2 separate regions of the Homo sapiens genome follow, and region 2 is linked to region 1. The links come from fine-mapping of genetic effects on gene expression. A gene starts in region 1. The other region holds a variant in brackets. All regions are shown on one strand. Distances are from middle to middle. Region 1 holds the start of LSR (lipolysis stimulated lipoprotein receptor). Region 2 holds the start of MAG (myelin associated glycoprotein).

Region 1 (5,228 bases):
GGTGCAGTGGCTCACACCTATGTGAGCACTTTGGGAAGCCAAGGCAGGTAGATTACTTGAGGTCAGGAGTTCGAGACCAGCCTGGCCAACATGGTGAAACCCCATCTCTTCTAAAAATACAAAAATTAACCCAGTGTGGTGGCATGCACCTGTAATCCCAAATACTCGGGAGGCTGAGGCATGAGAATCGGTTGAACCCGGCAGGTGGAGGTTGCAGTAAGCGGAGATCACACCACTGCACTCCAACCTGGGCGACAAAGTGAGACTCAGTCTCAAAAAATAAAATGAAATAAAATAAAGTGGCTCAAAGACTCAATTTAAGAGTTAAAACTATAAAACTCTTAGAAGAAAATATTGTTGAAAATCTTCATCACATTGGACTTGGCAACAACTGCATAAATAGGATACCAAAAGTACAAGGAAGAAAAAATAGTAGGTAAATTGAACTTCATCAAATTAAGAACTTTTGTGCACCAAAGGACACTATCAAGAAAGTGAAAAAACCTGGAGAATGGAAGAAAATATTTGCAGATCATATATCTAACAAGGGATTAATATTCAAAATATATATAGAACTCCTACAACTTGACAACAAAAAAACAAACAACCCAATTCAAAAATGGGCAAAGTACTTGAATAGACACTTCTCCAAAGAAGATATACTAATGGACAATAAATTCGTGGAAATATGCTCAACATCGTTAGTCATTGGGGAAATGCAGATTACAACCACAATGAGATGCCACTTCACACTAACCAGGATGGCCATAATCAAGAAAATGGATAATAAGTTTTGGTGGGGATGTGGAGAAATTGGAATCCTCCGTGCATTGCTGGTGGGAATGTACAATAGTGCAGTCATTGGGGAAAACAGTTTGGCAGTTCCTCAAAAGGTTAAAAATAGAACTACCAAGTCACCCAGCAATTCCATTCTTAGGCATATATTCAAAAGAAATGAAAGCAGATATTTGTACACCAGTGTTCACAGCTGCACTATTTACAATAGTCAAAAGGTAGAAACAACCTAGGTCCATCCACAAATGAATGGATAAATAAAACGTAGCATATACATACAATGGTACACTAGTCCGCTGTAAAAAGAAATTTTGATCTTACTGCATGCTACATGGCTTCGACATACTACAACATGGATGGACCTTGAAAACATTATTCTTTGTGAAATAAACTAGACACAGGACAAATGTTAGACGATTCCACTTATATGAGGCACCTAGAATGGGCAATTTGGTAAGCAAAGTAGAATAGAAATTACTAGGGGCACAGGTAGCAGGGAATGGGGAGTTACTGTTTAATGGTCACAGAGTTTATGTTGGGGATGATGAAACAGTTTCGGGGATAAAGAGTGGTGATTGGTACACGACATTGTGAATATACTTAATGCCACTGAATTTTACACTTGAAGTGGTTAAAGCGATAAATATTATAGTTTGCATATTTTATCATAAAAATATTTTTTTAAACGATGAAGGGACGTGAACGGGTTGAAATTTTATAAAAAGTGGCCAGGGAAGGTGTCACTGCAATGGTGTCCTACAGGAGGAGGAAGATCATGTGGACATCTGCGGGAAGGGTGTTCTGGCAGAGGGAGTAGCACGGGCGATGGCTCTGAGGACTGTGAGAAGTATAGTTGGAAACAGCGAGGAGGCCAGGGTGTCCGAAGCTGAGTAAGCCAGAGAGAGTGGGAGGAGGTGAGATAAGAGGGGGAAGGTCAGTTTCTGCTGAGAGTGAGGAGGAGCCACAGGAGGGCTGTGAGCAGGTGGACGTGATCTGGCTTGAGTTTTAACAGGGCCAGTAGAACAAAGCACGCCTGGGTACCGAAACCAGCCACTGGCCAGTTGGCAACCTGGGGGAGTCTAACGCGAGGAAGCGCCCAGGGTTCCCCCAGGATGCGCTTTCCCTCGCCGCCACCTGGAGACAGCAGAGTCACGCCCAGCGCTGCGCAGGCTGATCGCCGCGCCGCGCCCCCGCCCTCGGTCGCAGGTGGCTCGTTCCGGGAATTCCTAAGCGGAAACCGGTCCCAAGCCCCGCGCCTTCGCTCGGCCCCTTTAAGAGCCAGAATTTCCGGAGGGCTGACCCGGGGGCTAGGGATGCCCAGGGGCCGAACCACAAGTTGGGAACGGGTGGGGGAGGTGGCGAAAACTTCCGAAGTGGAATTCCAACTTTTCCTGGCCCTGATTCCCCTTGGGCATCCCTGAGGGGGCAGAGCTTCCCTTCCGGGGACTTTAGAGGGTTCCTCAGGTCATCTAACTGGGAGACACAGGAGGCCCGAAGCGCCCCCCCTCCACCCGGTCCGGAGGAACCCCAGTGGAAGTGGAGAAGTCAGGCGCCACCAACAAGCCTCTCCCAGCCAGGACTTTGCTTAGACTCGCTCCTCCCGGCAGGGCGCACCTAGGCGGGTCCATCGCCAGCCGGGGAGAGGGGTTTGGGCAGGGAGGGAACAGGTGCGCGGCGGGACCCGCCCTATCTCAACAGGTGAATCGCTCCAAGTGGGTCTCGGTTGCATGGATCTCGGTGCGCTTGGTTTGGCCGGAGCAGATGGGGGCCGGAAGGGACCTGTGGTCCGCAGGCGCCCTCCCAGCGGGCCAGTCACTTGGTTCGGGCCCTGGGGGACGGAGCGCACCTGGGTCAGCCCACTTCCGGGGAGGGAGGCAGAGGAACCCCTCCCCGCCGCTCACCCCTAAGCCCAGCCCTCGGCTCCCACCCTTGTGTACCTGGGCCGAACCATTCACCGGAGCGCGCAGCGGGTGGAGTGTGGCTCGGAGGACCGCGGCGGGTCAAGCACCTTTCTCCCCCATATCTGAAAGCATGCCCTTTGTCCACGTCGTTTACGCTCATTAAAACTTCCAGAATGCAACAGGACGGACTTGGAGTAGGGACAAGGAACGGAAGTGGGAAGGGGAGGAGCGTGCACCCCTCCTGGCCTTGGTGCGCGCCGCGCCCCCTAAGGTACTTTGGAAGGGACGCGCGGGCCAGACGCGCCCAGACGGCCGCGATGGCGCTGTTGGCCGGCGGGCTCTCCAGAGGGCTGGGCTCCCACCCGGCCGCCGCAGGCCGGGACGCGGTCGTCTTCGTGTGGCTTCTGCTTAGCACCTGGTGCACAGGTACGGGGCACGGGGCCTCTGACGCTGCGGAACGCCGGAGGGAACTGTAGAGGGGGATGGATGGAGTTGGAGGCGGCGGGAAGCGGGAAGCGGGGGTCTCAGAGGCTGGGACCTTCCGATCCCCTGGGTCTTGGGCGATCTGTTGCGCGCGGGAGTGAGAGGAATTCCCCATTTGTGCCGGGGAGCGCTCCCCGCGCCCTTATCTGGAAGATAGCAGGAAGTGAAACTCCCTGGACGGTGAGACCCGGAGCGGCAGGGAGAATGGAACTCTTTGTGGGGAGGGAGTGGAAGACCGCCCGATCTCTGGGAAAAGAAAAGCCGGGATGGGACTTGGGCGCACCCGGGGATTTCTAAGTTTTGGAGTAACGGGGAGAGGGCACGGGAGGGCTGGATCAGACGCTTCCTAGAGGGACAGAGACGAAGGAACAATGCCTAGGCCTCGGGTGGGTGTGGGACTGGGGACTCCCCATCCCCCGCACCCCACCCACCTCCCGCGGGCTCCGGATTATACGTGCGTAAGAGTCTGGTGGGATGGATTTACGGACTTGAAACCGACTTCTGCTGGCAGGCTTTCACCTGGATGGGATATTTGGGTGGTGATGAGGTCTTTCCCGAGACACTTTTGGTTCAGTCATTTGAAATGACTTTAGAGTAGGGTGAGGTGGTGGGAGGCTGATGGAGATATTGTGGGGGCTTTAGTCCCTCCATGGCAAAGCAGTTCAGGCAAACAACTCCATGGTTTTCCCTCCAAATTCAAAAGGCCCCGGGTAACCTGGAATCCTTCGTAGTCGGTTTTGAAGTGGGGCCTTGGGCGCTGGGGGCATCAACATGGCCATCTGGGCTTGCCTGCCCAGGCCACACAGAGGCCCCTTGTTGTGGGTGAATGGCAAAGGGAAGAGGGGACTGGTGTGGTTCAGAGGCCACAGGCTGGGAAGAGGGATGGCGGGCGAGTCCAAGGAAACTGGCCGTGTCACCGTGCACCTGCCACTTCAGCCCCACGGGTCTATAAAATGGGCATGATTATCGTGGCTACCTCACTGGTCCTGGCAATTAAGGAACAATGTGTGCCAGGCACTCTGTAAACCACATACTTGCGAGTGTCAAGCTGGTGACAGGTGGCGTTCCTGTTGAAGCACCTCCCTGAGCTCACAGCAACCCTTGCTGTCTCTCCTCTTGCCCTCAGCTCCTGCCAGGGCCATCCAGGTGACCGTGTCCAACCCCTACCACGTGGTGATCCTCTTCCAGCCTGTGACCCTGCCCTGTACCTACCAGATGACCTCGACCCCCACGCAACCCATCGTCATCTGGAAGTACAAGTCTTTCTGCCGGGACCGCATCGCCGATGCCTTCTCCCCGGCCAGCGTCGACAACCAGCTCAATGCCCAGCTGGCAGCCGGGAACCCAGGCTACAACCCCTACGTTGAGTGCCAGGACAGCGTGCGCACCGTCAGGGTCGTGGCCACCAAGCAGGGCAACGCTGTGACCCTGGGAGATTACTACCAGGGCCGGAGGATTACCATCACCGGAAGTATGTTGGGCAGGGCAGGGGGATGAGGCTGGGCTTGCCCGGGTGGTGGGACTGGCGTCCTTGTGCGGGACCTGGAGTCCCCATCTGAAAGCTCTTGAGTGCCAGTGTCTGAAAGGACCATTGAAGGGAGCAATTCTTTTTTTTTTTTTTTTTGAAGATGGAGTCTTGCTCTGGACTCCAGGCTGGAGTGCAGTGGTGCGATCTCAGCTCACTGCAACCTCCACCTCCCAGGTTCAAGCAATTCTCTTGCCTCAGCCTCCCGAGTAGCTGGGACTCCAGGTGCGTGCCACCACGCCCAGTTAATTTTTGTATTTTTAGTAGAGATGGGGTTTCACCATGTTGGCCAGGCTGGTCTCAAACTCCTGACCTCAAATGATCTGCCCGCCTTGGCCTCGCAAAGTGCTGAGAGACACCATACCCAGCCTAAAGGGAGCGATTCTATTCTACTATTCTTCCTTCTGCTAATCCTTCCATTCTTTAATTTAATAACGAAGATTTTTTGAGTACCTGTCATATACCAGGTGCTGTTCTGGGCCCTGGGAATACAGCTGTTAACAAAATCATCAAACCACTTCCCT
Region 2 (5,481 bases), 41 kb after region 1:
GCATTGGTCATTCGGCCTCAATGTTGGGTGTGGGCAGGGAGTGGGAAGGCCCAGGCTGGGCGGGAGAGGGCTCCAAGACACGGCTGCCACACCCAAGGCAGGTAAACCTGACTAGAACTTCTGATTTTGTCAAGAGAAGGTGGGAATTCCTATTTTTATTAGAGATTTCTTGCTTTGACAGTATTGGCAACTGAGCAAAGCAATTTGTCTTTTAACATCAACATTCTGTGAGCCAAACGAAGCCCAGCTGGGCGCCAGATCAGTCTGGGGCACCATCAATGTCTGCCTTCGCTTTGGAATCCACAGAGGCTTGTCCTCTGGGAGGGGAGGTTTCCTGAATGAAAACTGAAGGGATAGGGAGAGGGGAGTTGTGGTGAGCTTGGCCTCTTATTAGCTGTAACATCTTGCATGCATCTTCTTCATATCCGGAGCTCCACCTCCTCATCTGTATTTTTTATTTTATTTTTTTAGTCTGGGTCTTGCTCCATAGCCCAGGCTGAAGTGCAGTGGTGTGATCATGGCTCACTGCAGTCTTGATCTCCCGGGCTCAAGCGATCCTCCCACCTCTGCCTCCTGAGTAGCTGGGACCGCAGGTGCCTATCACCACGCCCCGCTAAAGTTTTGTATTTTGTGTAGAGACGTGGATCTGGCTGTGTTGCCCAGGCGGGTCTCAAACTCATGGCTTCAAATGATCCTCCCACTTCAGCCTCCCAAAATGCTGGGACTACAGTTGTGAGCCACCATGCCTGGCCTCTCCTTACCTTTAAAAGAACAGAGGCACTGGGCGTGGTGGCTCACGCTGTAATCCCAGCACTTTGGGAGGCCAAGGCGGGTGGATCACCTGAGGTCAGGAGTTTGAGACCAGCCTGACCAACATGGTGAAACCCCGTCTCTACTGAAAATACAAAAATTAGCCAGGCGTGTTGGCGCACACCTATAATCTCAGCTACTCTGGAGGCTGAGGCAGGAGAATCGCTTGAACCCAGGAAGCAGAGGTTGCAGTGAACCAAGATCATGCCACTGCACTCCAGCCTGGGTGACAGAACAAGACTCCATCTCAAAAAAAAAAAAAAAAAACAAAAAAGGAACAGAAGCTAAGTCCATACAGGACTTAGCTTAACTGGCTCTAGAGCTGCTCAACCAAGGGAATGAGTGTGAAATTGCTTTGGAAACTGTCCAATGCTTCCTCAATGTAAAGGATTCATATTGACAGGAGAGGGTAGAGGCCTCCCTCCTGGCAGGTGGGAAACCTGAAATCAGGAATTACACTTAATGACACGGGGTGCTCTTCTCTCCTGAGCAAGCAGTTCTCTGGGGTGGTCCTAGAGAGATGGGAGAACATGTAAAGCAGAGATACTCAAATTTCAGCGTGCTCAAAATCTCCTGGAGGGCCTGCAAAAATGCAGATGGGTCCAGGCTCAGTGGCTCAAGCCTGTAATCCCAGCACTTTAGGAAGCTGAGGCTGGAGGATCACTTGAAGCCAGGAGTTCGAGACCAGCCTGGCCAACATGGTGAAAGCCCGTCTCTACTAAAAATACAAAAATTAGCTGGGTGTGGTGGTGCACACGTGTAGTCCCAGCTACTCGGGAGGTTGAGGCACGAGAATTGCTTGAACCTGGGAGGCAGAAGCTGAGGTGAGCTGAGACCTTGCCACTGCACTCTAGCCTGGGTGACAGAATGAGACTCTGTCTCAAAAAAAATTAAATAAATAAAAATAAAATGCAGATGAGGCTGGGCGTGGTGGAGCATGCCTATAATCCCAGTGGTTTACGAGGCTGAGACGGGAGGATTACTTGAGGCCAGGAATTCAAGGCTGCAGTGACCTATGATGGCACCACTGCACTGCAGCCTGGGTGACACAGTGAGACGATGTCTGTAAAACAAATAAACAAATAAACTGCAGATAGCTGGGCCTCCAGAATTTCTGATTCCACAGGTGCAAGGCGGGGCCCTTGACCTTGCATTTTGAGCAAGCTGCAGTCCTGTGGAGGACTGGTTGTGAAGCTGACACCATTGTCTGAGGGCAGCAAAGGCTCTTGGATGGATTGAGCCTCAGCTCCCATCTATGAGAGCTTTAAGCTTTAAGTGAGAGCTCCCCATGGCCGAGAGCTTCATTCTGAATTCCTGCTGCTAGGAATTCAAAACTCACATTGAAGTCCTAACGCCTAGTAGCTCAGAATGTGACCTTAGTTGGAGGCAGGGTCTTCACAGAGGTAATCAAGTTAAAATGAGACGGGAGAATCCTAATCCAATATAACTGGTTTCCTAAATCTGACAGGGTACAGTGACTCACACCTGTAATCCCAGCAGTTTGGGAGGCCAACACAGGAGGACTGCTTGAGATCAGGAATTCAAGACCAGCCTGGGCAATATAGTGAGACCCTGTCTCTAGCAAAAAAAAAAAAAAAAAAAAAAGTGCCAGTAGTCCCAGTTACTATTGAGAGGCTGAAGCAAGAGAGTCGCTTGAATCTGGAGGGTGGAGGTGGCAGTAAGGTATGATTGCACCACTGCATTCCAGCCTAAATGACAAAGCAATACTATGTCTCAAACATAAATAAATAAATAAATAAATAAATAA[A/G]TAAATAAATAAACGGCAAATCTGGGCAGGGGTGAATACAGGGGGAAGGGAATGTGAAGATGAAGATGCCATACAGAGAAAGGCCCGGAACAGATCCTCACACCCCTCAGAAGGAACCAACACTGCCAGCACTTGATCTTGTTGATCTTGGAATTCAAGCTCAATTCTGGCAGGGTTTTTTGTTTGTTTGTTTGTTTGTTTGTTTGAGTCGGAGTCTTGCTCTGTTGCCCAGCCTGGAGTGCAGTGGCGCAATCTCCGCTCACTGCCAGCCCCGCCTCCCGGGTTCACGCCATTCTCCTGCCTCAGCCTCCTGAGTAGCTGGGACTACAGGCGCCTGCCACCATGCCCGGCTAATTTTTTGTATTTTTAGTAGAGACAGGGTTTCACCGTGTTAGCCATGATGGTCTCGATCTCCTGACCTCGTGATCTGCCCGCCTTGGCCTCCCAAAGCACTGGGAGTACAGGTGTGAGCCACCGTGCATGGCCTCAATTCCGGTTTTTAAGCCACCCAGTTTGTGAAACTTTGTTGTAACAGCCCTGGAAAACTGATACACCTGCTCTCTCGTAAAAGATCAGCTGATACGGCAGCACCGGCCACTGGATCTGCGGGTCAGTTGTCCCCTTAGACAGGGCACCTGCCCGCCAGTCACAGGTCCTGTCACCCAGCCCCTTCCTCTCATGGGCTCCAGCCGCCTCGCTCCCACAGGTCTCCTGGAGACCCGAGTTGCTGATGTCAGCGACTATTGCGAGTGCTCCTGTGGGACACTGTCCTCTCCCCAGCAACAGCCTTCAGTTCACACCCAGGGAGGAGATGGAGCCCCACACTGCACCAGCACACGACTCCAGCTCCAACTAGGTGGGTGTTGATGCTGAAGGCTGTGACATGCAAATACCCCCCAGGATCTCCTTGTCACCCCGACCACCACCACCAAAGCCCAGGCACCAGGCCCCTCTCTTCTCCAGGACCCAGGCATTCAAGCCCCGCCCGACTCTCAATGGTCCTTTGTCCCGGACTGGGAAAGGCACGGGCAGAGTCTGACATCATGAAGCCTGGGGTGGGGGTGGGACTCCCCCTCCCCCTCCAACTCCCCCCCAGCCCCACAACGCTTCTCTCCCTGGTCTGAGGGATTTCCCCGCCCCTCACCCCCTGGGTTCTCCCTTGAGAGCGAGGACCCCCCCTCCCCACTGCTCTGGCCTGAAGGAGGACAGGAGATGTCCCAGTGAGGCTGAACAGCTCATGGTGAAATCACTGCTGCACTTTGTCACGCCACCTCCAGCTGCCCCGAGCCCCCACCCACCTTGCAAAAGTCATGACCAAGGGGTGGAATCTGCACTCAGAGGGTCCTTGCCCAACTTGGTCAGCACAGTCCTATGTGCACCAAGCACTGCCCCGGGGACAGAAGGGTGCACATGACAGACAGAGAGGCAGATAGGTTTCTGGTGAGCCCCTGCCTCTGAGAGCTCCTGGGTTAGTGGGAGGCAGAGGCGGGCAGACCTAGGGTGCACACGGGCCAGCCTGCCAAGGCTACAGAAGGAAAGGACAGCATTGCAATGGAGGGGCCTGGCTGATGGGCGAAGATGGGAAAGCTTCCCAGGGAAGCGGCACCCAGGCTGCTGAGCCTACAGGATGGGTGAACGGCAGCCAGTGCCAGAGTGGGGAGTGCTATGGGGTGGGGACTGCTTTCCAGGAAGAATGAGCAGCAGGTGCACAGGCCTTGAGTCTGAAGGTGCCCTGGGGCTCTGGGGAACACATTCAACCACCCACACTGTTTATTAAGCTCAACTGCCTGCCAGGAGCTTGTCTACGAGCAAGGATGGATTGAGAATATCCAAGACGAAGCTTCTGGCCTGGTGGAGGTCACGTTCTCATGAAAGGAGTTGGTGAACACGGAAGGTCATTTCAGATGGCAAGAGGAGGTGACACTGACGTTGAGGGTGGAAAGGACCTGTCTCCTCCTGCTGCCCACCTAATGTTGCCACCAAGATTCCCTGAGGACAATGCCTCTGTCCCTCAGCCTGGGACTTCCAAAGAGATTAGACTGCCCCCCCACCCCCGGGACCCAGAATCAGGGTGTACAGGGATGGAAGATGGGGAGAGAGCAAGGCAGCCACTCCCGACCCCTCCAGGAAAGAGCTAGGAGAACCCAGGCGTCAGGCTGCCCAGTCCGAGCCCCGTGGTGACAAGGGCCCCTTTGTGCCCCCCTCCCCCGGGGGTAGGGAGGAGCTGGGCCCTGGAGGCAGGCGGCCCCTGGCACCCAGGGGGAGGGGAGGGGCTGGCAAGTGGGGGCCTAGACCCTGGAAGGCAGGGGACTGCGAGCTGGGCTGGCGGAGCAGAGGTGCAGAAGCAACTGAGTCCAAGTGAGTATGGTGGCAGGGAGGCCAGGGCAAGGGGAGCAGGGCACCGGGGCAGTGGCACCCAGACGTGAGCAGGGTCAGGTGCTCTGGGTGAGGGAGCATCGCTGTGCACCGCTACTGATTTAGGATGCAGGAGTGTGTGGCTTGGGGCTGCTTTGGGGATGGGCTCGGACCATCGCTGGGGCAGCGATGGGGCTCTGGGAAGAAACCACAGAGAGAAAAAACAAAGGGCCCCCCCTCAGCACCCCTTGTGGGTGAAGATTTTGCAGGAGAGGTTTCCTTGGGGTTCCCGAGTGCGGGGCAGATGGGGTGGAGGAGGTCTGCATCTGGCCGAAGAATGGAAGGATGTCCAGGTGATCAGACACCTGCAGGCTGCAATCTGGGAGGTGGATGGGGGCAGTGGGCTGTTAGTGACTGCATTCTAGCACCTGGGCACATAGCAGGTGTGTGTGTGTGTGTGTGTGCGTGTGCGTGCACACACATGGCTGCCCATGCACCTTCCTCTGTAAGCCTCAGTCGACTTTTCTTCATTAATCCCCACTAAGGAC

What was found. PIP is the estimated chance that this variant, and not a neighbour inherited with it, causes the effect. A credible set is the group of variants that fine-mapping cannot tell apart.
Region 2: its variant is the best candidate, but not a certain one, in a credible set for the expression of LSR in subcutaneous fat (FUSION, PIP 0.64).

Annotation. Positions count from the first base shown.
Region 1 is chr19:35,246,010-35,251,237 of GRCh38, forward strand. LSR (lipolysis stimulated lipoprotein receptor) reads left to right here and starts at 2,993. Exons shown (of 10, transcript NM_205834.4): 1 at 2,993-3,122; 2 at 4,306-4,650. The coding sequence starts at 3,014. RefSeq lists enhancers at 1,577-1,746, 1,880-2,682, 2,683-3,484 and silencers at 2,597-2,676, 3,087-3,156.
Region 2 is chr19:35,287,269-35,292,749 of GRCh38, forward strand. It overlaps MAG (myelin associated glycoprotein), which reads left to right and starts at 4,893. Exons shown (of 11, transcript NM_002361.4): 1 at 4,893-4,936. The variant A/G (reference allele first, on the strand shown) is at 2,579.